7 linked regions of the Homo sapiens genome follow. The protein of the gene in region 5 interacts with the protein of the main gene of each other region in a biochemical or structural test. Each region holds a gene or a part of one and is shown on either strand. Other genes may lie near its edges.

What was found.
Region 1: the proteins of LDB3 (region 5) and FZD1 interact in a test that uses a peptide from one of them, tested with the Homo sapiens proteins (one large-scale study listed by IntAct).
Region 2: the proteins of LDB3 (region 5) and KCNA7 interact in a test that uses a peptide from one of them, tested with the Homo sapiens proteins (one large-scale study listed by IntAct).
Region 3: the proteins of LDB3 (region 5) and PALLD interact in a test that uses a peptide from one of them, tested with the Homo sapiens proteins (one large-scale study listed by IntAct).
Region 4: the proteins of LDB3 (region 5) and SLC6A3 interact in a test that uses a peptide from one of them, tested with the Homo sapiens proteins (one large-scale study listed by IntAct).
Region 6: the proteins of LDB3 (region 5) and KCNV1 interact in a test that uses a peptide from one of them, tested with the Homo sapiens proteins (one large-scale study listed by IntAct).
Region 7: the proteins of LDB3 (region 5) and GJC1 interact in a test that uses a peptide from one of them, tested with the Homo sapiens proteins (one large-scale study listed by IntAct).

Annotation. Positions count from the first base shown.
Region 1 is NC_000007.14:91,262,939-91,267,232, reverse strand, and holds the start of FZD1 (frizzled-1), read right to left. Parts: upstream 2,801-4,294; 5' UTR 2,353-2,800; coding exon 409-2,352; 3' UTR 1-408. UniProt on the Homo sapiens protein: Receptor for Wnt proteins. Activated by WNT3A, WNT3, WNT1 and to a lesser extent WNT2, but apparently not by WNT4, WNT5A, WNT5B, WNT6, WNT7A or WNT7B. Contradictory results showing activation by WNT7B have been described for mouse.
Region 2 is NC_000019.10:49,069,900-49,073,991, forward strand, and holds the start of KCNA7 (potassium voltage-gated channel subfamily A member 7), read right to left. Parts: upstream 2,801-4,092; 5' UTR 2,687-2,800; coding exon 2,132-2,686; intron 980-2,131; coding exon 164-979; 3' UTR 1-163. UniProt on the Homo sapiens protein: Mediates the voltage-dependent potassium ion permeability of excitable membranes.
Region 3 is NC_000004.12:168,920,052-168,923,551, forward strand, and holds part of PALLD (palladin), read left to right. Parts: intron 1-1,482; coding exon 1,483-1,690; intron 1,691-3,500. UniProt on the Homo sapiens protein: Cytoskeletal protein required for organization of normal actin cytoskeleton. Roles in establishing cell morphology, motility, cell adhesion and cell-extracellular matrix interactions in a variety of cell types.
Region 4 is NC_000005.10:1,410,941-1,414,440, forward strand, and holds part of SLC6A3 (sodium-dependent dopamine transporter), read right to left. Parts: intron 416-3,500; coding exon 303-415; intron 1-302. UniProt on the Homo sapiens protein: Mediates sodium- and chloride-dependent transport of dopamine. Also mediates sodium- and chloride-dependent transport of norepinephrine (also known as noradrenaline). Regulator of light-dependent retinal hyaloid vessel regression, downstream of OPN5 signaling.
Region 5 is NC_000010.11:86,717,011-86,720,510, forward strand, and holds part of LDB3 (LIM domain-binding protein 3), read left to right. Parts: intron 1-953; coding exon 954-1,134; intron 1,135-1,716; coding exon 1,717-1,837; intron 1,838-3,500. UniProt on the Homo sapiens protein: May function as an adapter in striated muscle to couple protein kinase C-mediated signaling via its LIM domains to the cytoskeleton.
Region 6 is NC_000008.11:109,969,272-109,972,771, reverse strand, and holds part of KCNV1 (potassium voltage-gated channel subfamily V member 1), read left to right. Parts: coding exon 1-514; intron 515-3,500. UniProt on the Homo sapiens protein: Potassium channel subunit that does not form functional channels by itself. Modulates KCNB1 and KCNB2 channel activity by shifting the threshold for inactivation to more negative values and by slowing the rate of inactivation.
Region 7 is NC_000017.11:44,820,288-44,823,787, reverse strand, and holds part of GJC1 (gap junction gamma-1 protein), read left to right. Parts: intron 1-3,500. UniProt on the Homo sapiens protein: One gap junction consists of a cluster of closely packed pairs of transmembrane channels, the connexons, through which materials of low MW diffuse from one cell to a neighboring cell.

The sequences.
Region 1 (4,294 bases), on a different chromosome or scaffold from region 5:
TGCAATACTCCGAAAAGGGCAAGAAGGAAAAGCCTCAAATGGTTAAACCGCCCTAAATAATTAAAAACTTTTGAAAAAGAAAAACGCGTGATCGGTCGTCATTTAAATACAAATATACTTACAAAAATCTTACACAGGCTATTTACAATCATAAAAGCGAACAGTCCTGGTACCAGAGTGTGAGGGCAAGAGGTCTGTCCATCCTCCCTCTGGCAGTCGGGCCCTCGTGTCCTTTTGCCTCAGGGACGGAAGCTTTTGCAGGAGCTGAGTTGTTCAAAGGAGCCTGCGAAAGAGAGTTGTCTAGTGAGGAAACCTCGAGATGTCAGGATTGGCACGAACTCCACGGCGCTGGCTTTGGGGGATCGCTGCGCCCCGGCCGAGGCCTGGGCATGGGCTGAGCCCCGGGTCTCAGACTGTAGTCTCCCCTTGTTTGCTGTTGGTGAGCCTCGTGTAGAACTTCCTCCAGGAGTTGAGGGTCTTGCCGGACCAGATCCAGAAGCCCGACGTGATGCCCACGATCAGCGTCATAAGGTACTTAATCATGAAGACCGTGAAGTCCGGGCTCATGGGCGGGTGCGGCGGGGCGCCTCCGCCCGCCTGGAGGTGAGGGCAGGGGATAGCGTAGCTCTTGCAGCTCTGGGCCACCCAGCTGCGTTCCCACTGGTCCCGGAAGGCCTGCTCGTAGAAGTAGCAGGCGATGACGATGGTGGCTGGCACAGTGTACAGCACGCTGAAGACGCCAATGCGCACCATGAGCTTCTCCAGCTTCTCGGTCTTGGTGCCATCGTGCTTCATGATGGTGCGGATGCGGAAGAGCGACACAAAGCCGGCCAGCAGAAAGGACGTGCCGATAAACAGGTACACGAAGAGGGGCGCCAGCACGAAGCCACGCAGCGCGTCCACGTTGTTAAGCCCCACGAAGCACACTCCGCTCAGCACATCGCCGTCCACCTGGCCCAGCGCCAGGATGGTGATGGTCTTGATGGCCGGCACAGCCCAGGCGGCCAGGTGAAAATACTGTGAGTTGGCTTCGATGGCCTCGTGGCCCCACTTCATGCCAGCCGCCAGGAACCAGGTGAGCGACAGGATCACCCACCAGATGGAGCTGGCCATGCTGAAGAAGTAGAGCATCATGAAGAGGATGGTGCAGCCCTCCTTCTTGGTGCCCTGCGCCACAGTGCGTGCCCCGTCCTCGGCGAACTTGTCATTACACACCACTCGGTCTTCCAGGAGGAAGCCGGCGATGTAGGCCACGGCCACGGCCGTGTAACAGCCGGACAAGAAGATGATGGGCCGCTCCGGGTAGCTGAAGCGCCGCATGTCCACCAGGTACGTAAGCACCGTGAAGAGCGTGGAGGCGCAGCACAGCACTGACCAAATGCCAATCCAGGTGCGCGAGAAGCGCAGCTCCTCGGGCCCGAAGTACATGAGCCCATACACCTTGGTCGGCTCACAAGGTGCGCCGCAGTCCTTCTCCCCCAGGAAGTGGTAGTTGAGGTAGGAGGGCACCTTGAGGGCGCGCGGGCAGGAGAACTTGCCTCGCTCCGACGCGCCGGCGCCCCCCGGGAAGCCGCCACGGTGCCCTCCGCCGCCGTGCTGAGGGTTGCTGGTCCAGAACTCTGGAAGCAGCGAGGGCGTCGGGGTGCCCTTGTCGGACGTGTTCTGGCCCACGCACAGCTCGCCGGCGCCGTGCACCGGGAACTTCTCACACTTGAGCGTGTCTGGCCACTGGAAGCCGAACTTGTTCATGAGCGCCTCGCAGCCCTGGCGCGCGCGCTCGCACAGGGAGCGGCAGGGCGGCAGCGCCTGCTCTAGCACGGTGCACACGGGCGCGTACATGGAGCACAGGAAGAACTTGAGCTCAGCGGAACACTGCACTTTCACTAGAGGGTAGAACTGGTGCACCTCCAGGCCCGCGTCCTCCTGGTTCGTGTGGCCCAGCAGGTTGGGCATGATGGTCTGGTTGTACGCGATGTCCGTGCACAGCGGGATGGAGATGGGCTGGCAATAGCCGTGGTCCGGGACGGAGATGCCCCGCTCGCCGTTGTACTGCTGCCCGCTCTGTTGCTGCTGAGGCGGCGGCGGCGGTTGCTGCCCCGGCCCGGGCCCCTGGCCTGGCCCCTGGCCCGCCGCCTGGGCCCGGACCCCCAGCAGCAGCGGAGCCTCCAGCAGCCAAAGCAGCAGCAGCAGCTGGCGCGCCAATCGCCGGGGGTCAACTGGCGGGCGGCGGCGGCCACCGGCGTCCCCGCTGCCCTCCTCCGCCAGCCGGGCCGAGAGCGCCCCGGCACAAAGTTCCCAGCTCGCGCCACCGCCGGCGGCCCGGGACTTCTTAGGCGCCTCCTCCTCAGCCATACTTTCTCGGCTCCTCTCTTGGCGCCGCTCCGCTGGGGCTGCCAGGGGCACGGCCGGCGGCGGCTCCCCCTGCGGCCAGGGAGACCTCTGCGCGGGTGCCCTCCGTCGAGCCCAAGCCGCTTTCGGCCCGCTCCCCCGGCTCCTGTTCTGCGTACCGCAGCCGCCGCCGCCGCGGAAACTTGCGATTCATGAAGCGCGGGCGGCGGGGAGAACCCGGGTGGCTAGGGCGCGCCGGGGTCGTGTCCCGCCTTCCTGGCCCTCGGCTCGCTGGCTCCCGGCTGGCGGCGCCGCGCTAGTGGCCGCGGCCCCGTAGAGAGCGCAACTCTCCGCAGCCCAGCGGGCTCGGCTCCCCCCTGCGCCTCCGCCTCCTTCTCCGCCGCCGCCGCCTGACCATTTGTGTCAATCCCTCAACTCGCTCCCTCTCCTCTGCCTCGCGCGCCCTCGGACCGGTTTCCAGGCGCCCCGTAGTCTGTCTTTCACCAGGAGGGAGGAGCCTTGAAACCGACGCAGAACTGGAGGCTCAGGGACCGTCGCCCAATCGCGGCTCCGGCTTCCCGGCGCAAAGGGAGCCGGCCGCCTCCTCGCCAGAGCGAAAGCCAGCGGCAGGAGGGCGGGGTAGGAGGAGGCGGGAGGAGGAGGAAGTAGTGGTGGTGGCACTACTCAGGCACAAAGAGTAGGATTGCTCTGAAGCGGGACAGGCTTGGTTGCTTTTGCTTTTTCAGAAGAAAAAGGCGAGGATACGTAGGAGAATGGTCCCATATGCTGCTGGAGATAATGAATAGGAGTCAGAGGACCGCGGGACTTCGCTTTTCTTTTATTTTATCCATTATCATGTTTAAAAATCCTGCTCTTAACGCTGGTTACCAACAGCAAACCGGGTTCTGCTTCCAGAACAGATGCCTTTGACTTAAGGAGCGCACGGTTTCCTTTGAGTTTGTGTCTGTCGAGGTTTTGTTTAACATATTACATTAATAAATCCTCCAGTTCGCAGGCTGGGCTTGGCGGGCTTTGGTCGCGCCATTTCCCCAGAGGAGACGTTCACGGGATCGCTGTCAAATGAAACAAAACACAAACTTTGATGGAATTTGGAAAGTAAAGCCAGATGCGCCTTCTGCTACTATCATTCTTCTTGGAGTCAAACTCCTTTTTTTCCGCCTCTTTAATCAAGTCAGAAACAGAAGCAAAAGAAAACTATCCATTAAATTTTTGGAGAGAAAAACTTAAGAACCCGACGACCGAGGCAGTGGGGGCGCCTCTCTGGGATCGTCCTCGCCGCTCCAGACCGCAGAGGTGGCGCCGGCGGGAGCTGCACTCGCCGGCAGCTTGGGCCCCTGGGGAGCCTTTCTAAACCCTGGGGACGCCCACGGCTCCGATGGGAACTCCTGGGACCTGGGCCATTTAGGTTCCACAGGCTGGGCTGCAGAGCTGGAGACGCCAGTTTAATAAACAAAACAAACAAACAGTCTGAAAGCAAACAGCGAACTGCACATTCTCTTCCTAATTCCAAAACAGCATAATCCGTCTCAACAGACGCACATTAATGTTGTTTTCCTTGTAAGATTATTTTAAATGATGGTTTGACTATGTAATTCAGTTTTATAAGAAAAGTGCCATTGGACTATTAATTCTTCCATTTTTTTTTTTTTTTTGCCTGTGATCAGACTCTATCTCAGCGTACTTTTCACCAATTACTTTCTATCATTCATTTACACATTCATTTGTTTAATAGATACCAACCACCCATTGTGCTATAAGCACTCTTAGGTCGTAGAGTATAAAATGAAGGAGACCTGTGCCAGCCTTAGAGAGGGGCATAGTACAGTGAGGCACAGAAATGCAAATCACTTGTTACAGTGTCCATCCCAAAGCCAAAAAGGCACATAGAAAGCAACCAGCTCAGATGAAATGGGGTTCTGACGGAGAGGTAGGTGCAAGGTGCAAA
Region 2 (4,092 bases), on a different chromosome or scaffold from region 5:
AACCACACAACCCAAGACCCAACAAGACTCAGTGTTTCCCCACTCGTTACGACTTAACCTAGCTCTTCCTAAACCCAATCCCCTCCCCCCAGCCTTGCCCTCCACCCTGCCCTCCCTCCCTCCCTCTAGGGAGGTGTGAGGTCCTGCAGACCTCAACTGTTCCTCACACTTCGGTGACCAGGTGTTTCCCTGGGGGTGCCCAGAGTGGAGGTGGTAGCTCAGGTACCTCCCCGTCCACCAGCCCCCCATTGGCCTTGCCCTCCAGTGGGCCACAAGGCTGCATGTCCACATGGCTGAACATCCCAGCCTCTTCGCCCTCTGTCTCCCGGTGATAAAAGTAGCTGAAATTGGAGACAATGACGGGCACTGGCAGGGAAATAGTCAGCACGCCCGCAATGGCACACAGAGAGCCCACTATCTTGCCACCCACAGTGACGGGTGCCATGTCTCCATAGCCAACTGTAGTCATGGTGACTACCGCCCACCAGAAGGACTCAGGGATGCTAGTGAAATGGGAGTCCACCCGGTCAACTTCGGCAAAGTAGACGGCGCTGGAAAAGAGGACCACACCGATGAAGAGGAAAAAGATGAGGAGGCCCAGCTCACGCATGGAGGCCCGAAGCGTCTGGCCCAAGATTTGCAGGCCCTTTGAGTGCCGGGACAGCTTGAAGATGCGGAAGACACGCACCAATCGGATGACTCTCAGGATGGCCAGTGACATGGCCTGCTGGCCCACCCCTCGCTGCCGGGCCAGCTCGGTGCCCAGTGCCACAAAGTAGGGAAGGATAGCCACAAAATCGATGAGGTTCATCACGTTCTTGAAGAAGATAGCCTTGCTTGGACAGACCAGGAGGCGTACCAGCAGCTCAAAGGAGAACCAACAAATACACAGCGTCTCCACCACGAAGAACGGGTCATTGAAGGGCAGGCGGGGTGGATTTCCAGGCATTTGGCTGGAGCCATTCAGCGGAGCGGGGAACTGCAGGGAGGAAAGTGTTCAGGGAGGGTCAGGCTGGGGCTAGGACACGGGGACAGCCTTAATCATCATTTAAATACCCAGCTCCTCTTTACACATTGGTCAGTAGCCGCTGCGCCAAGGCCCTCCGTGACCTGGTTATCCCAGACTTCCTCCCAGGATCCCAGGGATCATCCCTGGGCCGCTGACTTTCTGGTTGCCTGACCTGGTGGGTGGCTGGAGACGTGGTCCCTGCCCCTTCATGCGTGGGAACTCATGTTTGAGTAGGGTGCAACCTCTTCTCTCTCAAAGTCCCGCCTCCAGTGTTGATTTTCTAGATGGGGAGCATCCCTGCCCTGGCCCCACCACCTTGTGCCTAGCTTTTCCTTGCCCTCCACAGTCCCAGCCCAGAGTATAATGCGGCTGGGCGCGGTGGCTCACGTCTGTAATCCCAGCACTTTGGGAAGCCGAGGCGGGCGGATCACGAGGTCAGGAAATAGAGACCATCCTGGCCAACACGGTGAAACCCCATCTCTACTAAAAATACAAAAATTAGCCGGGCGTGGTGGCCTGCACCTGTAATCCCAGCTACTTGGGAGGCTAAGGCAGGAGAATCGCTTGAACCCGGGAGGCAGACCTTGCAGTGAGCCGAGATAGCGCCATTGCACTCCAGCCTGGGCGACAGAGCAAGACTCTGTCTCACAGGAAATAAAAAAAAAAAGACCTTCTCTGCAAGCCGAGCCCTAGGCCCCCTCCTCTGGCCCCTCAACCTGGCTTTCTTTCCATAGATTCCTCCTACTGTCGCCCCTCGGGCTCCAGCACCCTCAGCTGGAGTTATTCAGGGCCTGGCTTTCACCACCCAGCCGCACAGACTCCGGAGTTTTCAGGCTCTCCTTGGCCCCCCTCAGCTGTGATTTTTAAGGTTCCTGTCCTCCTACCCCTTGCATCAAGGGCCCTGCCCTCTTCACGCCGGGTTTCTCACTGACCTCAACCCCACCTTCTGATGGGGCAGGTCCTCCGACCCGGATCCTCAGGCCCCGCCTCCCGCCCACCCTGTCTTCGGCTGGCCCACCCCTCGCAGCCCCTGGCCCCGCCTTATGATTGGCCAGGTCCCCTCTGGACCCCGCCCATCTCCTCCCAAACCCCGCCCGTCTCCACCCACGCCCCGCCTCTCACCGGGCCGGCTGCGGCTGCAGCAGCAAGCCCCGTGCCGTCGCGGTCGTCGCGGAAGTCAGGCAGCGTCTCGAGGCAGAAGACGACGATGGAGACGAGGATGACCAGCACGGAGACTACGGCGAGCACGCGCGCGGCCTGAGAGCTCTCGGGAAACTCGAAAAGCAGCCACAGCTGGCGGGCGAAGGCGCGGCGGGGCAGGGGGCGCTCGGGCGGCACCGGGCAGCCCTCGTCCTCGCGCAGGCGTGCCAGGGCCGCCGCGCCCAGCCCGTAGAAGGCCACCTCTTCCAGGAAGACGTCGAGCGGCACGTGCGCCGGCCGCCGCAGCCGCCCACCGGACTGGTAGTAGTAGAGCACGGCGTCGAAGCTGGGCCGGTGCCGGTCGAAGAAATACTCGCGGCGCGCGTCGTCGTAGAAGCGGCCGCGGCGCGCTGGGTCCCCTAGCAGAGTGTCCGGGAAGCGGCCCAGCGTGCGCGCCCGCGTCTCGAAGCGCAGCCCGGCCACGTTGAGCACCAGCCGCTCGCAGCAGCCGCACGGCGGCGGGCACCGCGGCTCCATGGCGCGCGCAGCCCCGGCGACCCGCGAACCGACGTGTGGCCCCGACGCCCGGCCCCGGTGCGGCCCCGCCTCGGCCGCCTCGGCCGCCGCCGCCGCCGCCCCAGCCCGGTGTCCGGTGTCCGGTGTCCGCGCGTAAAAATAGCCCGGCAGGGCGGCTAGGGCGCGAGGGAGGGGGCACTGTGACCCCGGCGGGGCGGAGGGCGACAGGGCGACCGCGCGCCCTCTGCCGGGACGCCCGCCCTGCCCTGCCCCGCCGCCGCCGCCGCCCGCGCCTGCTCTGCGCCTTTCCCGTCCCGGGGTCCCCTTTCTCTCCGTCCTTCTGCCGCCGGGATCCTGTCCTGCGTCTCTCCAAGTTTCCGTGTGCGTGTGTTTCGTCAGAATCAGGCTTCAGTTGCAGTCGCCTCTTTTCTTTTCTCTTTCTTCTTTCTTTCTGTCTTTTTTTTTTTTTTTTTTTTTGAGACACAGTTTCCCTCTGTCGCCCGGGCTGGAGTGCAGTGGCGCGATCTCGGCTCACTGCAACAACCTCCACCTCCCGGGATCAAGCGATTCTCGTGCCTCAGCCTCCCTAGTAGCTGGAATTACAGGCGCCACCAAGCCCAGCTAATTTTTTTTCTTTTTTCTTTTTTAGTTGAGAAGGGGTTTCACCATGTTGGCCAGGCAGGTCTGGTACTCCCGACCTCAAGTGATCTGCCCTCCTTGGCCTCCCGAATTGCTGGGGTTACAAGCGTGAGCCACGGCGCCCGGCCTGGAGTCGCCCTGTTTGCACCTTTGTCTCTCACTCTCTTGTGTGTCTGTGTCCGGCTGTCCCCTCTGGGTCTCTGTCTCTTTTGGGATGTATCTCTGAGTATCTCTATGGGTCATTTATTTCTGAGATTCGTCGTTCTGGGGGCCTCTGTATGGGTCCCTCTGCCAGCCTCTACGTCTCGGTCTCCGCCTTTATTTTGACTCTTGGTCTGTCTCCGTTTATCTCTTGTCTCTCTTGGTCTCTTTGTCTCTCCTCTCTAGGTCTCTTTTTGCTCATTATCTCTTAGCCCTCCATGTCTCTGTCTCAGGGTTCCTCGGCCGCTCCCCTTTGGGTCTCCCCTTGGGGTCTCTAGAGGACTTAGGGTCTCCGGAGTCATATCTCTTGATCTCTCCCTGACCATCACTCCATGTGGGTGCTGCCACAGTCCCGGTGGCTGTCCCATCCTAGGGTCACTCTGGCAGCTGCAAACCACTGAGCATGTGCACACACGCCCCATTCTCTCCCCAGAGTTCGCTCCAGAGTCTCCACCTGGATTCTTCGCAAGACTTTCTGAGACCTAGCAGGACCTGAGCTGCGGCTATGACTCTGGCAAAAGGAGTCTGGTCTTGCCGGAACGGGCGGGGGTTGGGGGTGTGGGCCGGGGAGATGCCACAGGGTCATT
Region 3 (3,500 bases), on a different chromosome or scaffold from region 5:
TGGTAAAGTAGGAACAAGCAGTGCCGCTTTGTTTCTAGATGTGGGAACAACAAGGAGCCTGACCAAAGATGTCCACTCCCTCTTCCTCCACACCACTTCTGATGACCTCCAAACAGGTCAGGCAGTGTACATGGAGAGCTGGGGACAGCAAGTGGATAGATAGGAGAACACAGAGCCTGAGTGTCTCAGAAGCCAAGCTGCCTAACTACTGCTGTTTGTTTCCAAAACCTCTTCATCCTTTTAACCAGTCATTTAAGTTTACTTTAAATGCTGTAGCCCTTTGCTACATGTGTGGTGGGAGGCATCTTGCAGGTAATATCAGTTGAGTATCACGTAGCAGGAATGGAATTTGTGAGTCCTCTGGCTGATGCTGGCAAAGCTAGTTCTTCAAAAGAACTGTTTTACAGTCTAAGTGACATCTTTTTGTATATAACTTCGTACTAGTAAAGTTGGGGGTAGGGGGTAAAAAGGCCTTCCTTAACAGTGCATTTCTTCCATTCAAAATCAAGGGCAAAACTAAAAAGCTGGCAGATGGCGACCATCCTGACCCTTTGCGGCACAACATGTTATTAGCAATTAAATGCTTTTATCTGATCTCTGGTCCACACAACTGTCAAGGTCTCAAGATTTTATGATGTTTCCATTGTGATGGTAATTTGTTGAGATGGCTTTCTGGGTAATTTCGTATTGCTCTTGTTATTCAGTTTCAAGGATTATAAAATAATAATAGCAGCCCTGTGTGCTGACGAATGCATTCTCCATAACTATGGCTGCTCCTTGATGAGAAGCTTTACAGTACTATATATAAATGCCAGCTGAGTATTTGTTATTATTGTTGGACATCTTTTTTCAAAGAAGCCCAGAGCCTGGTGCTGATATCATCCCATTAATCTCCATAGCCCTGGGCAAGGTAAGACCATGACAGCAATTTTTTAAATCCCATCTCGGTCTTCTCTAGGTTGCTCTGTAAGAATTGTTTAGATGTAAGCTGGTGAGTGCTCAGGAAGCCAAAGTTTAAAGCAAAAGTTTTAAGCAAAAGAGTAACATGAGCTGATACTAAAAGCCATCTCTTGGCCCGGTGCAATGGCTCATGCTTGTAATCCCAGCACTTTGGGAGGCTGAGGCAGGCGGATCACCTGAGGTCAGGAGTTCAAGACCAGCCCGGCCAACATAGTGAAACCCTATCTCTACTGAAAATACTAAAAATTAGGCTGGCATAGTGGCAGGCATCTGTAATCCCAGCTACTCAGGAGGCTGAGACAGGAGAATCGCTTGAACCCGGGAGGCAGAGGTTGCAGTGAGCTGAGATTGTGCCACTGCACTCCAGCCTGGGCAATAAGAGTGAAACTCTGTCCAAAAAAAAAAAAAAAAAAAAGCCACCTCTTGTACTACTGAAGGAGGAATTTATGCAGACTTCTTAGCTACCAGTGATTTCACTCTGTTTTAATACAAAAATTTACATGTATTTCTTTTATGATTTAGGTCAGTGGGTTACCAACCCCAGATCTAAGCTGGCAACTAGATGGAAAGCCCGTACGCCCTGACAGTGCTCACAAGATGCTGGTGCGTGAGAACGGGGTGCACTCTCTGATCATAGAGCCAGTCACGTCACGTGATGCCGGCATCTACACATGTATAGCTACCAACCGAGCAGGACAGAACTCATTCAGCCTGGAGCTTGTGGTTGCTGGTAGGCTCATCTGTGAATCCTTGCTCTCTGACAGAATGAACATCAGACTTACAAATGTAAACTAATTCTACATTACTAACCAATACGGAAAATAAAGTATTGAAAAAATAGATTGTATCATCAAAATAGCCAATGAGGACATGGTTATAAGGCCTAGCAAAACAGAAACAGAAATCTTTCATTTCTCCCACTAACCTGGCAAAGAGAGAAAAAGATTTTATTAGCTCTTTTGGGTCATTCGACCTCCTGTGTGTATAGTGGCCCCTAGTGTTACATAGAGAAATAGTAACAGCAGCATGGACTCCAAGAACCAAAGAATTTGCTTATATATAAAGTTTTATATTTATATATATATATATATACACACACACACACACACACACACACACACACACACACACACCTGGTTTTTAAAACAACACTGTCATCTACCCTCATAGTCATTGTCAAACTACACTCAGATTTGCTTTTTCACTGATTATTGTGTAGGTAAATTCTGTAAAAGTGCTGTTACATGAAGTCTTATGCTTTGAGAAGCCTAAAAGGAAAACACATTTATGGAAAGGTTTTTATACCATCCTTAAGAGTTAGGTGTTGAGTACCTGATCTCTTTTAAGAAAGAACATAACAAAACATTTATTTCTTCTACCTCTTTATGCAAAGTGCTTCATGTACATTATGTATCAGTTGGCCCTCACATGAGCCTTATGAGATAATCAGAGCAAATCTTCTCTGAATTTTCCAGGGTCCCACTTAGTAAGCTGATGATTAGATTTAACACAAGACTCCTAGTGCTCTTCTAAACACACTACGTCACTGAGCTCTTTCAAGAAATAGAGTAGCAATGAGAATAAAACCCAAGAAGTCTTGACAAAACTCTTGGATTATGATTCTGATAATGGTACCAAGATGTTTTCACATAAAAATGTGGTAAATATGTGGACTGTGGTGCTACAGGTTAGCCATGCTTTCAAGTTTTGTACAAAGTACTCTATATTCTTACATGCTACAATTGATTTCATTCCTCTAACCTCAAACTAAAACTTCACTTTTCTGCTGTTAAATATGCCTTTTGATCACATAGATACCTCAGTGCGCATCAGCTGGCACTCCTGTCAGAAGACGGTGATGCACAGTAATTGGAAGCAAAGTCTTTGGGGTCAGATCTGCTCCAGTCCCGGCTCTTGTCGATTTTACTAGTGTGACATTTGGCAAATAGCTATCTCTGCGACTTAGTTTCTCCATATATAAAATGGGAATATAATGCCTCACAGTGCTTTCCTAAGGATTAAATCATAAAAATGTGTATGAAGCTCTGCATAACTAGTACCCTGCACAGCAATGCTGCAAAGTGGTAGATGTTATTCTTACTGATGAGTTGCTATGACATTAAGACTTGTTTTATACATTTTATGTTCTTTGCAAAACTGGAGCCCCAGAAAGAATACAAAGTGAGCTTCTGTTCCCACTTCTCCCAGAATAGCCTAGGATGGGCAACCATGTAAAATTCAATAAAAATCCAACCTTCTAACTAACTCGTGGTGTTGGAGAGTATTAAGCATTTGAAAAGTTCAGGTAGAATTTTCATCCTTTTTGAGCTCTTTCCTAGCTGCTTTGCTGTGATATATCTGTCACTCCAGATGAGGGAGTAGTGGTGGAAAAGGAATGCATTCTCAGATTCATTGTTGGTAGTTCAAAAGAAAATAAGTAAACCTTATTCATTCTCTGAAGTACTTTCCACCACTACTACAACTGATCCAAGAAAACAATTTCCCATTGGATGGTATTATTCAGAGTGTTATTAACAATC
Region 4 (3,500 bases), on a different chromosome or scaffold from region 5:
TGTGCGTGTATGTGTGTGTGTGCATGTGTGTGCACATTTCCAGGATCTGTAGGTGGCTCAGGGCAGGGCACACAGGTACCCCAGAGTAGGGGGATAAAGGGAAAGGTAAACTCCAGTCACCACTCACTCCAGCCCCGAGAAAGGTCTCCCAAATAATCACGGGGCTCGCCCAAGTCAAGGACAGGAGGTCTGGGGGCCGTACGTGAGCCCAGGGATCTTGCCTAGCCCTGGGAGGGCAGGGCCCCCTCGGGTGGAAGGAACCCAACTGCCGAGGACAGGGCCGGGCGGTGCGGGTTACTCACGGCGCTGTCGATACCCAGGGTGAGCAGCATGATGAAGAAGACCACGGCCCAGGCTGAGGACAGAGGGAGCGTGGCGATGGCTTCCGGGTAGATGATGAAGATCAGCCCTGGCCCTGAAACAGAACCCGCCCTGCTTGCCACAGAGCCCACGCTGTGCTCTCCCGCCCATCCTGCCCCACCCCGCCCCGAGAAGCATGGCCTGCCACAGGCCTGTAGAGACTAGGGCTGGTGCGGCTCTGCTGAAAAGCCCCCTTCTATATGTCCAGCAGACCAGGCCTGGGACTCAGGAAAGCGGAAACCCAGAACTGATCAGAGGGCTTTGGTTCATGCCCACCACCCAGCAATGGGGCTCCTCCAAATTACCTGGGTCCTTTTGGGCTATGGGGGTGCTTGGGGAAGGAAGGGGCAGAAACAAGGAGGAGCAGGAGGGGCTTCCAGGCTGGTCCTGCCCTTCATCCCAGGGACATCTGCTAATGTCCTTCGAGTTAGTTTTTCCTGCACATACCATGCAACATACACACTCAGACACACATACCATGCAACATACACACTCAGACACACATACCATGCAACATACACACTCAGACACACATACCATGCAACATACACACTCAGACACACATACCATGCAACATACACACTCAGACACACATACCATGCAATATACACACACAGACACATGCGCGCACATGCACGAACACTCATTTGTGCATTCAAACTCATACATGCAAGAACACATCCACATGCACGCACACAAACAGAAACATGCACGTGCATGCACAAACATACACAAACACACACAAATCACACACGTCCACACTATTTAGTAGCCTAATTTCTAAAATTAGCAAAACATTTAGGGATACATTCCTGACCTCCGCCTTCCAGGCACATGAGGAAGCTGAGGTCCTCCCACCCTCCCGTGAGGTTAGACGTGGCTGCACTTGGCCAATGTGCTGTGAACCCACAGTGAGCGGGTCCCTGCGAGTGAAGCTTGGTAGAGGAGTGTGTGGCTCCTTCACCACCTCCCCTGCCACGGGGTCCCGCAGGCCATATTGAGACAGGCTCCTGTCAGCTGGGGCCCTGAGGGCTCAGAGGAGCAGCACATCCTGATGGATACAGGGGCCCAGATGGTGGCTTCGGAGATAAGAGACAAACCTGCTACCTTGCTATCCCTGCAAGCGAGGGGCACGCCAGGCTGAGGGCGGCATGGCAAAGGCGGAGGAGGTGTTCCCCCACAGCTCTCTCGGGAAACGACACGTGCTTCCTGCTACCAGCAGGCAGACTCGGATGGAGGTGGAGGGGACGAGAGTGTGGCAGGCAGGCGACCAAAAGTCAACGCAGTTTGGTCTCTGATGACCCCAAAGTAAAAACCAGTCCCATAGGCAATTGACCTTTGACCAGTTCAGAAGCCTTGCATCCTCCACTGGCTGGCACCATCTCCCAAGCCCAATCTGCCTGCAACAGAGTCCCCTGTCCTCAGCAGGCACGTGTCTGGCCCTAGCCTGCAGGAATAGGCCTGCGCCTGGCCTTTTAAATAATCAAAGGCCAGAGCCAGGGGCCGTTCCTAAAGGTCTTTCAGGGGCCTCACTATCAGCCAAGCAGCGGGGTCAGACCTGGGCTCTCGCAGCTCCCAGATACCCTGGTGGATGGGGACAGCCTCCGCGTGGGGTGGGGGAGGCAGGCTCGCCTGAGATGTTCCGGGGCTTAGATGGTACCAGCCAGGAGCCTGGGAAGATATTCATCAGCTCAGGGAATGTAATGTCAACACCCGTGCCTTCGTTTCTGTACCTAAGTTAACATTTCACCCTATTTTCTTGAGAATTAAGGCTGTAAATGACATTTACTTTGCTTGTCATGAAATGCACAGAAGAACATTCAACTTTATTTTCAGGGGTTAATAGAGGTTTTTGCAAACTATGCTCGTTATCATAATAAAGGGCAAAAAGAATGAAGAAAAGGCATAAATGCGGCACCGAGTAAATTTCACTGCTCTGCATTTATTTGCAGATGTTCCCTTTCTCCCGCTTTGACTGAATTTTTTTTCCTAGTGGAAAGAACATGGGCTTAGGAGGCCCACCTCTGAGCTGTGGCTCCAGCCCCGACCCTGGCTTTCTGTTGCAAGCATGGAGTGGGCCCTTTCAGGTCTCTGAGCGTGTTCCTACCTGCGGTGCGAGGGTCCTAGTGCCCCACTCTGTGAGACTCAGGTGCGGTCAAGGCTGCCCCCGCTTGGTGCTTGTCGCTCCCCGCCTTCACTGAGCCTCAACACCCAGGCAGAGATCAGTCAGCAACAACACCCACACGGGACAGGGGCTTTTCTGAGCACAATCATTCCTCACAAATGTAGTGCCCCCACCCCACCCCCGGAGAAGACAGTCCAGAGGAAGCAAGGATGGGGACGCAGCATGGGAGCCCACCCAACCCAGGCCCGTGTCTGGAGCGAAAGGGCCTCCTCCACATCCATGTGGCAGAGCAGGCCGGGAGGCAGGCGGGGGCTCTGCTGGCTGACAGAGACCGAGAAGCCTTGGGACTCCCTGGAGCTCTCGGTTGGCCCAAGTTAGGGCTGCCAACGCCACAGCTTTCCACTGCAAGCACCGGAGCCAGGCACGTGGCCCCAAGTGCCTGGGCCCACTCTCAGCCCCTGCATCTGTGCCCGTCCTGCCGGCTCCATCCTGCCTGGCACACTTCTTGCTGTGGCCAAGGCCTCCCCCCACCACTCACCTGTGCCTGCCCGAGACCTGGACCCCTCCCCACCCTCTCGGAGACAACTCCAGGCGTGCAGGGACACTCAGCGTCATGCGTCGGCCTGGGGAGCGGGCAGGGACACCCTGTGCTGGAGGCCCCAGGGATCTCCCGGCTGCTCTGTGGCCAAGCTGATGTTTGCGGCATCCCAGCCTGCCTCCAGGTGTTGCTGGAACAGCTCATTCCTCCCCTTCCCTGAGCTGCATGTTCCCACACCGCGTGGCAAGCAAACATCTAGAGGGCCCTCAGTGACAGCATCTACGCCAGACCCTGGTGGGGCAGCCTCATGTGGCATCTGCAGGGAGCAGTCGAGGGACTGAGGCACCAACTATGCTGCTCAGCTGCATTTGGGCTTGAGGTTCCCCAGCCCAGGGTGGAGGCCCCGAGAGGCACAAGGCAGGAAAGGCACTGGGTGGGGGGGCCTGGAGGGGCAGGGCGGAGAAGGCACTGGGTGGG
Region 5 (3,500 bases):
CCAGCAGGATGCCTGGTGCCAGGAACTCCCCCTTGGGCTAAGGTTGAGGTCTGGGAATCACCAGGCTTGTCAGTAGGTTTACAGGGCATTTTGTTAGACAGTGTTGGTTTTGACCCAGTTTTCCTTTAGGGTTGTTTCTGGGTCTTTCCACAGACAGGCCTGGGCTGCTCAGGGGGTTGGTGGGCATCTGCCAGACTAAAATGAAAACAAGTGATTTCATACTTAGAAGCCATGGACCATGGGTGCTGTTGTTTGAATACAGTATGTTTGTGTGCATGTGTGGTGTGAGCTTATATACGTGAAAAATACACTTTTATTTAAAACTAAAGTAATACATACTCATTAGTGAAGAATTGGAAAACACAGAAAAGTAAAAATTAGAATATAAAAAAATGTCTTCATAGTCCCACTGTTCTGACTGCTAACCTGGAACTAGACAATACAAGTTTGTATCCTGGTCTACCACTTACTAGCCCTATGGCCTTAAACAAGTTGTTCAAACTCTGTGTGCCTCAATTCCCCTATCTAAAAATGGGTATTATAATAGTACCTAGTGCGTAGGATTGTTGTGAGAATTAAGCAAGTTAATAAATGCAAAAGTCTTCTTGAATAGAGCCTGACACAGAGTAATCACTTAATAAATGTTAGCCATCAGCATCATCATTATTGCATTTCTTACTATCATTATCAGTGGTCAACTGAATTCTATAATATGTTTACCCAGTCCCCTATTGGTAGATGTTTGAGTTGCTTCCTGATTTTCTTTATTGTAAGTGATGCAACAATGAACACCTTTCTGCATGGAGCTTTCTCTGAATTTCACATTACTTCATCAGAACAGTCACAAAAGTCAGAGTTATTGGGTAAAAGTATAAACAGTGTTGGGGTTCTTCAAATATCTAATTCCAAGTTCTGGGAGCTGCCTTACTGGGTGCCATTCTGTGCTTCCCCAGGGGCCCATTTCTGGTAGCCATGGGCCGTTCTTGGCACCCTGAAGAGTTCACCTGTGCCTACTGCAAGACTTCCCTGGCAGATGTGTGCTTTGTGGAAGAGCAGAACAACGTTTACTGTGAGCGATGTTATGAGCAATTCTTTGCCCCGCTGTGTGCCAAGTGCAACACCAAAATTATGGGGGTAAGTGGGAGGCCTCCATTTCCTCTGACCCATGTCTCTTCCCCAGCCCTTCCCCAAGATCGTGGGATCCCATTAGGAAGCCAAGAAGTTGCTGGTAACAGAGAAAGCAACTCCATTTTTATCCTAAAAGGGAATTGGTTTGCCACCAATAAACTTGGGGATAAATGAACTTGATGCAAGAGATGATTGTGTGCCTGTTCCACACAGCTTGAAGTGGTGGTGGAACTTCTGCAAAGCAAGTGGTTGCTTCACAGCCTGACCTTACCACTCACCAGAATGTGGCCTTAACCCTCAATGCCCCTTTGGTAAATGACAGTAATAAGCAGTACCTCCTCCCAGGTTTAATGGGAGGATTAAGCCTCACAGTTTATGTAAGAAAGCACAGAACCTGGCACCCAGCTGGAGAGTGACAACCCCTTCTCTGACACCCCTGGGTCTTTCTTCAGAGTGACCAAGGCCTGCATCCTGAGATCTCCTGCCCTGTTCCCTGGTAGGATGCTCGGGCAGTGGCTGGAGCCTGGTGGGGTAGTCAAGCCCGCTCCCTCTCTCCTTTCTGTCCTGAGCTTAGGCTCTTTCCCCCAGGAAGTAATGCATGCCTTGAGACAGACATGGCACACCACCTGCTTCGTCTGTGCGGCCTGCAAGAAGCCTTTTGGGAACAGCCTCTTCCACATGGAAGACGGGGAGCCCTACTGCGAGAAAGGTAGGAACACTTCGATGGCATGTGGGGAGGCCCCACAGCCTGGGAGAAAGGGGCAGGCACAGGGAACTAACTCCTGCCTAATCCATTCACATCCGACCACCCAGAGGCCTTTATTTCTGGAAGAAACCTTTGTTTTTGCTTTTAATGGCAGAATCATGCTAATATCACACAAAGGAAGTTAACTATCTCCCCTGCCCATATGGTTGCAGCTTTGGGGAGAGTGAGGTGCAGAGTCTATAGCTTATTTTATGCATCAAATATGTGGATCTGGTTAGGTGAGGTGGCTCACACCTTAATCCCAGCACTTTGGGAGGCCGAGACAGAAGAATTGCTTGAGCCCAGGAGTTTGACACCAGCAACATAGCAAGACCCAGTCTCTACAAAAAATATAAACATTAGCCAGGTGTGGTGGCGCGTGCCTGTAGTCTCAGCTACGCAGGAGGCTGAAGTGGGAGGGTCGCTTGAGTCCAGGAGTTCGAGGCTGCAGTAACCTGTGATAGCACCACTGTATTCAGCCTAGGCAACAGAGTAAGATCCTGTATCTCAAAAAAAAAAAAAAATGTAGATCACAAGTTGGCATCTTATGACCACTGGGAAACCTTTCAGGTTATTTTGATTTGGAGACCACAAGGTCTAGTCTGAAAAGGCCTTGGCTGTGGACTTTGTCCTTCATTCTATTCCTGGTTCCACTTTGGGCTGCTTTGTAAACCTGAGCAAGTTACTAACCTTCTCTGAGCCTTACTTTCCTCGTCTGTAAACACCTGCCTTACAGAGCTGTGGTGAGGATTAAACCAGAGAAGGCGTGTAGAGCATCAAATATGCGAGACCCCTTCCTCTGCCCCTGTGATATTTATCAGACTTTGATGTTCCTGCAGATTCCTGTAATCTCACGGAGTGAATTCAGAGTTTCTCTGTACCCCCAAAATGCTATATGTTATCTTAAAATGCTAAGTAAATTATTGTAAATTCAAGAGACAAAGCACTTCATTAGATAGGTGGAAGTCAGTCACTCATTTATTCAGAGGCTTCCCCCTTCAGAAAGGATTTGAAGCAGGTTCCAGAAAAGGTAACACAGACATGAAGGCTAAGACAGTAGAACCAGAAAATCAGAGGCGGGAAAAGCAGGCATGCTGATTATGAAGAATAACAGAGCTGCAGGGACTAACTGGGTAGCAAATTTGAGGGCAAAAAGAGAAACACAGTAAGTTAGTTTACTTTAAAATCAGAAAGGAGAAAACATTCAGTTCCTCAAGGGAAAAAGCAAAACAAAATAAAACTTCTTTCCCCTGACTGTAAATTAGAAAATAAACGTTTTGGCTGGGCGCGGTGGCTCACGCCTGTAATCCCAGCACTTTGAGAGGCCAAGGCAGGCGAATCACCTGAGGTCAGGAGTTCAAGACCAGCCTGGCCAAAATGGTGAAACCCCATCTCTACAAAAATACGAAAATTAGCCGAGCATGATGGCGGGCGTCTGTAATCCCAGCTACTCGGGAGGCTGAGGTTGAAGAATCGCTTGAACCCGGGAGGCAGAGGTTGCAGTGAGCTGAGATACTGCCGTTGCACTCCAGCCTGGGCAACACAGTAAGACTCCATCTGAAAAAAAAAAGAAAGAAAGAAAAGAAACGTCTTGGGTTCTTGTACTAGTGAATGCCCTTCCCAGCTC
Region 6 (3,500 bases), on a different chromosome or scaffold from region 5:
GAGCTGAGTGAAACTTTAGACTTCAAGAAGGACACAGAAGACCAGGAAAGTCAACATGAGAGTGAACAGGACTTCTCCCAAGGACCTTGTCCCACTGTTCGCCAGAAGCTCTGGAATATCCTGGAGAAACCTGGATCTTCCACAGCTGCCCGTATCTTTGGCGTCATCTCCATTATCTTCGTGGTGGTGTCCATCATTAACATGGCCCTGATGTCAGCTGAGTTAAGCTGGCTGGACCTGCAGCTGCTGGAAATCCTGGAGTATGTGTGCATTAGCTGGTTCACCGGGGAGTTTGTCCTCCGCTTCCTGTGTGTGCGGGACAGGTGTCGCTTCCTAAGAAAGGTGCCAAACATCATAGACCTCCTTGCCATCTTGCCCTTCTACATCACTCTTCTGGTAGAGAGCCTAAGTGGGAGCCAGACCACGCAGGAGCTGGAGAACGTGGGGCGCATTGTCCAGGTGTTGAGGCTGCTCAGGGCTCTGCGCATGCTAAAGCTGGGCAGACATTCCACAGGTATTCACATTTCACTGATGCCTTTTAATTTGCCATTGCATGTAAGCATTCGTTTTTTGACCACAGTACAAGGAAAGTAACGCTGAACTGATATTCAAAATTACCAACTCCCATACTTTACCTGATCATGACCTCTAAGGAGATATTGGGAGGCAAAACATTGAAGTTGCTATCACAGGTATAGAGAAATGAGCTCTCACATACCTCCTCTCCATAAGAGAAATGTTGAGAGACAATTTGACCATTTGCTAACCTCAGTTTATTTGAAACCATTACCCAGAAGATATACAAAAATTAAACGCACTCTGCCTATTCAAGGTTCTGGACAAAACAGGCATAAATGACACATAAAAAGATACACATAAATTATATATGATATATAGGGACATAAGCCAATTTCTCTTCAGTATCCGAGAAGTGCTTGCCACATATGCTCCTTGGCAGAAGAGAAAGTCAGCCCTTCAGAGCCTTCTCTGGCCATGCAGAAAGAGAAATGACTAGGTGCAGGTGGCCTTTCCAAAATTTTCAAAGAAGCAATGAAAATATTTTGCTTTGGGAGAAAGCAAAATAAACTAATTAAATGCTTTATCTAGTATCTGAAGGTTTTCTTGTCCCTAACCTGGGATGTATGAGAGAGGGGAATACAGAAATCCCTTAGTTTTTTGTGTATCACAGAGCCTTTGAAAATCTAATTAATATTTTCCTAGAAAAGTCTCCATATAACACACACACAAACACATAAGATACGTGAAAATTATAATCAATATCAGTGAAAATCACAGGAACTGATTAAAAATGATTCTTGCATCCCCAACAGTAGTAGTTATCAGTGGCTGGCCTTGCAGCTGTCAGATATTGTGGAGTATATGAGTTTCCTTATGACATACCTTAATGAAAATAAGGATCCCCAGGCAAGCTTGTTGAAATACAGCTTCTGGCTCCAACCCCCAGAAAGCTTGAGATCGGGTCTAGGAGCACACATTTTATAAATAATAAGTTCACCAATGACTTTGATGTAGGTGGTTCTTGGACCAAACCTAGAGAAACACTGGAGTATGATGCCATATTAATTTTATATATGTTGATACAAATACATATTAGCACAAACAAATTGGCTAGATATCACTATCCTTATTTTATTTCCCTAGATATGTGCCCTGACTGACCACCTAAAAAAGGTTGATGGTAGTTGTCCTTCCTATAAATGTCAGGTGAAATTACTTCTGATATGTTTTTCTTCAACATTTCTCTGACAATTAGAACTTATTATAATATAATTTTGGTAGTGTATTTTCCTAGCTAGTCTCACATACCAGGAATTTGATAATGGGGTTTCCAATAACTTTTACAAGTACCACTCTTTGTTTTCTGACACAGATAATGGGATGCTTTCTTCAAGTATTTATAAACTCTTCACAAGACTCAATTTAAAAACACCCAGTAAAAACTACATTTTTTTCCAAAAGAAAGGAAAAGGAAAATAACAGTGATTTCCACAATGTCTCCTCTTCAAAGATTTTCACCATTCTAAAACAAGTATAAAGTTTTAGTAAACCCTTAATTATTAAAAAATATGTGACTTGCATATTTGACAATTTTGCCTCAACACTACATTTATTAAAATGTACACATAGATGACCTATTTCCCCATGTATTAATTATAAATTCAAATTGAGAGATGTTATAGGATAATGGGTTTTTGGCCAGAAACTAGGTTTAAATCCTGGCTCTGTAGCTTTCTACTAGATAAGCTATCTCTTTATGCCTCAGCCTCCTCGTCTGTATAATGGCATAACAATTACCATGTCCCTCTTATATCCTTTCTTTTGAAGATTCTCTGAGTTAATAGAGATAACATGCTAGAAATTCCACCCACTTTGTTTTCCTTTACAAAATTGTTTTGAACATTTTGCCTTTAAACTAAAACAGTGTTCCCAGACAAATGCTATGCATCTCCTCATATGCTGTGAATTTATTTAAGGAACATAATTCCATGTAGACACATCAAGGCCAGTTTTTTATAAAAGTAAAGGTATTATAAAGGTATTCTGAAAGATACTCTTTTGAAGTTAAACTTCAAAATACTCAATGATCTTTAAAAATAGCTGGTTAATAATTCAAGAATATCTCAAAATTTGAAGAGCAAAATTCAAAATCCTAAGAGTATGATTAGTATGCTAATGCCTTTGAAATAGTCTCTAGTGAGTGAATAAAAACAAAAAATGATTCTAAGAGGTATTGTTTTGGACTTCTGGGGCAATATCATTTTGACATCATGTTGATATAATTTCAAAATGTGGACAAACTTTAATAACCACCTCTCTAGTATTAGGGAATAAATCTTATGGTTCATTCAAAGCCTGGTTCCATAATGGGCTTTTCTTTCTTTCTTTTTTTTTTTTTTTCTTTTTTTGAGAGGGAGTCTCATTCTATTGCCCAGGCTGGATTGCAATGGCGTGATCTTGGCTCACTGCAACCTTCGCCTCCCAGGTTCAAGTTATTCTCCTGCCTCAGCCTCCCGAGTAACTAGGATTACAGGCACGCACCACCACGCTGGGCTGATTTTGCTATTTTTAGTAGGGATAGGGTTTCACCATGTTGGCCAGGTTGGTCTCAAACTTCTGACCTCATGATCTGCCTGCCTCAGCCTCCCAAAGTGCTGAGATTATAGGCGTGAGCCACCGTGCCCGGCCCATAATGGGCTCTTACTCCCCTTAGGCCTAGTGTCTTCAGAGACGGAATTGGACTATCGTGGTTCTGTCTCCCTGGGGTTTAATAAATCCTCAGATCTAGGAATGGAAAAGCAGCCAATGCTTCATAAAGAGTAAATTCTCTAGTGGTTCCATTTCCCATACCTTTTTGCAATGGAGGAATATTCTGTATTCAGGTCTATGTTATTATAGGAAAGCAGAAATTTTATGTACTCAAGGGAGATAATTTCTTACAGCTTTGGTATTAAGGAGTAGGGTTTCAGTGGGTGTCTTGG
Region 7 (3,500 bases), on a different chromosome or scaffold from region 5:
GTGAGCTAAGATTGTGCCACTGCACTCCAGGCTAGGCGACAGAACAAGACTCCATCTCAAAAAAAAAAAAAGGAAAGGAAAGAAAGGCCAGGCATGGTGCCTCACACCAGTAATCACAGCTCTTCTGGAGGTCATGGCAGGAGGATTGCTTGAGTCCAGGAGTTCAAGACCAACCTGGGCAATATGATGAGACCCTGTCTCTACAAAAATAAGAAATTTTAAAAAAAAGGAGGAAAGAGGCTAGGTACGGTGGCTCACGCCTGTAATCTCAGCACTTTGGGAGGCCGAGGCGGGGGGATCATGAGGTCAAGAGATCAAGACCATCCTGGCCAACATGGTGAAACCCCGTCTCTACTAAAAATACAAAAATTAGCTGGGCCTGGTGGCACACACCTGTAGTCCCAGCTACTTGCGAGACTGAGACAGGAGAATCACTTGAACCCGGGAGGCGGAGTTTGCAGTGAGCTGAGATCACACCACTGCACTGAAGCCTGGTGACAGAGCAACACTCCGTCTTAAAAAAAAAAAAAAAAAAAAAACAGGAAAGAAATGCATAGGGTTTCAGAGTAAGTTTTGATGTTTTTCCTCTATATAAATCGGATAAACTTCACACACCCCTATTCTTATCCTCTAATCTCTAAACTATATTCAACTCCCAATAGTTATAGAGATTATTTTCATTCACATGTTTGTAGTATTTATCAGTTTTGGCTTAATTTATTATTACTTAACTAATGAGTTATAACATTCCTTTTGGGAACGTTCAAATTAGAGCTGGACTCTATTTTAGGAATTCCCCTTGAGTCATTCTTGGACTTGGAATTCCTAATTGCCCATCCAGAGTAGATGTTTATTTGGATTCAAAATTTTCCTTCCTGAAATTATCCATTCTGTGGCTTCGGTTACCATATATATTTTGAATACTGCCACATTTTTATCTGTAGCCAGACCTCTTTTTTTATCCTGGCTGCCTGTTCAACATCTCCACAGAGATACTCAGAGGAGGTAATTTGAATTGTGTTGTCCAAAGTGAGCTCTTCATCTTGGCCCCACACCTAGACTTTCTTCAGTGTACTCTATTTTATTAAGTGGCTCTATCACACAATTTACTGAGGCTGGACTCTTTTTTTTTTTTTTTTTTTTTGAGATGGAGTTTCGCTCTTGTTGCTCAGGCGGGAGTGCAATGGCATGATCTTGGTTCACTGCAACCTCTGCCTCCCGGTTTCAGGCGATTCTCCTGCCTCAGCCTCCCGAGTAGCTGAGATTACAGGCGCCTGCCACCACGCCCAGCTAATTTTTTATATTTTTAGTAGAGATAGGGTTTCACCATGTTGGCCAGGTTGGTCTCGAACTCCTGACCTCAGGTGATCCACCCGCCTCGGCCTCCCAAAGTGCTGGGATTATAGGCATGAGCCAACACACCCTAATTTTAGAATATTTTAGATTGTTTTTATTCCGTCAAAAAGAAACCTGATACCCGTTAGCAGTTACTCCCTCCTTATTCCCCCCATAATGGTTGTACAATATTCCATTATGGAGGTTATACCATAAATTATATATGTTTCTTTTTTTTTTTTTTTTTTTTTTTTTTGAGACGGAGTCTCGATCTGTCTCCCAGGCTGGAGTGCAGTGGCACGATCTTGGCTCACTGCAAGCTCCGCCTCCCAGGTTCACACCATTCTCCTGCCTCAGCCTCCCAAGTAGCTGGGACTACAGGCGCCCGCCACCATGCCCGGCTAATTTTTTGTATTTTTAGCAGAGACAGGATTTCACAGTGTTAGCCAGGATGGTCTTGATCTCCTGACCTTGTGATCCACCTGCCTCGGCCTCCCAAAGTGCTAGGATTACAGGTGTTAGCCACCGCACCCAACCTAATTATATGTGTTTCTTATAATAAATGCCCTGTATTTGTTTAGGGTAAATTACTAAATGTGGAATTATTGATCAAAGGATATAAGCACTTTAAAGTTCTTGATAACTGTTGCCAAGATGCCTTCCAGAAAAGTTGTACCAGATGACACCATTGGTGTATGATGGTATGGGTGTTGGTGTTTTTTTGTTGTTTTTTTTTTTTTTTTTTTTTTTTTTTTGAGACGGAGTTTCCCTCTTGTTGCCCAGGCTGGAGTGCAATGGCGCGATCTTGGCTCACTGCAGCCTCCACCTCCCAAGTTCAAGTGATTCTCCTGCATCAGCCTCCCAAGTAGCTGAGATTACAGGCGTGTGCCACCACGCCCGCTAATTTTGTATTTTTAGTAGAGACAGGATTTCGCCAATATTGGTCAGGCTGGTCTCGAACTCCTGACCTCAGGTGATCCGCCTGCCTCAGCCTCCCAAAGTGCTGGGATTACAGGCATGAGCCACCGCACCCAGCCGATGGTATGGGTTGGGTTTTTTTAAAGAAATTTTGTATCATAAACGTAGTCATATTGGAAAATCATACATTTATTTTTGTCTTAGACATGTTCGTTTTTCTAGACTGAGCATTGTTCAGAACAGTTGGTTTGACCTAATCTTAGGCTGTTTTGGACAAATGTTCCAATATTGTCCTGTTTGCATGAAGACAGTTCCACTTAGGATATGTTGTGAATGAATATATTATCCCTATCCCAGGTTCCTCATACTTCTCCAGCTGGTTCCTGAAGGTTCTTACATTCAAATAGAATGGCTTTTTGCCAGCGAAAATTGGCACTTCAACCCACAATGGTGCTTTTTGTTTCCTCATTGGTTGATACAGCCAAGATCTCAAACTACTCACTCTCCATGAGATTTTATAATTTGATTCGCCACAAATTATATTTTAGGTTTTTCAAATATTCATAGCCAAGAGCTCTTTTGAAAACAAGTTGTTTTCATGTTTGTAGCACATAGATTACTATGTGCTACTTAGCTGCTGTAATGCTTTTGCTTAGAAATTGTCACGAGCTAGTTATTAAACATCTATTATCACTCATGTGGAATTAACTTCCACTTAAAACGTTCCAGTTAAACAACACTTCATTGTAAACCCTTTAATTGATTCCTGGTCTCTGCACATAAAGCAGTCGCGTTCAGGGGTATGAGTCACTAGCACGATTCTTAGTGGATTGCTCAGCTCATGAGCTGGGATGCCTAGATTGTTAATACCTACTTTGGAATTACAGTGAGTCAATATTGAAATTTTTAAATTTAGTCCAACCGCAAATTTTCTGAAATGATCGTTTGGGAAGTGCCTTTTTAAAATTTTGACATCTTGTTATATTGTTTAATTTTACTGCTATTACTTTACTTTTCTCCTATCCCTAGACTTTTGAGTTCCACATAATTTGTCAGTTTGGTGAATTTTACTCTGAGATAGTTTTCATCAAATGTTAAATGGAAGAGATTTTAGAAATCATCTAACTTGATATTCTTCATTTATTTCAGAAATTAGGATATGGAAAGAACTTATTCCTGAAGTGCATGGATTATATTCTGGGATTAGAATCTCTTGCCTTCTAGTCCATTGCTTGCTTAGTTTCACA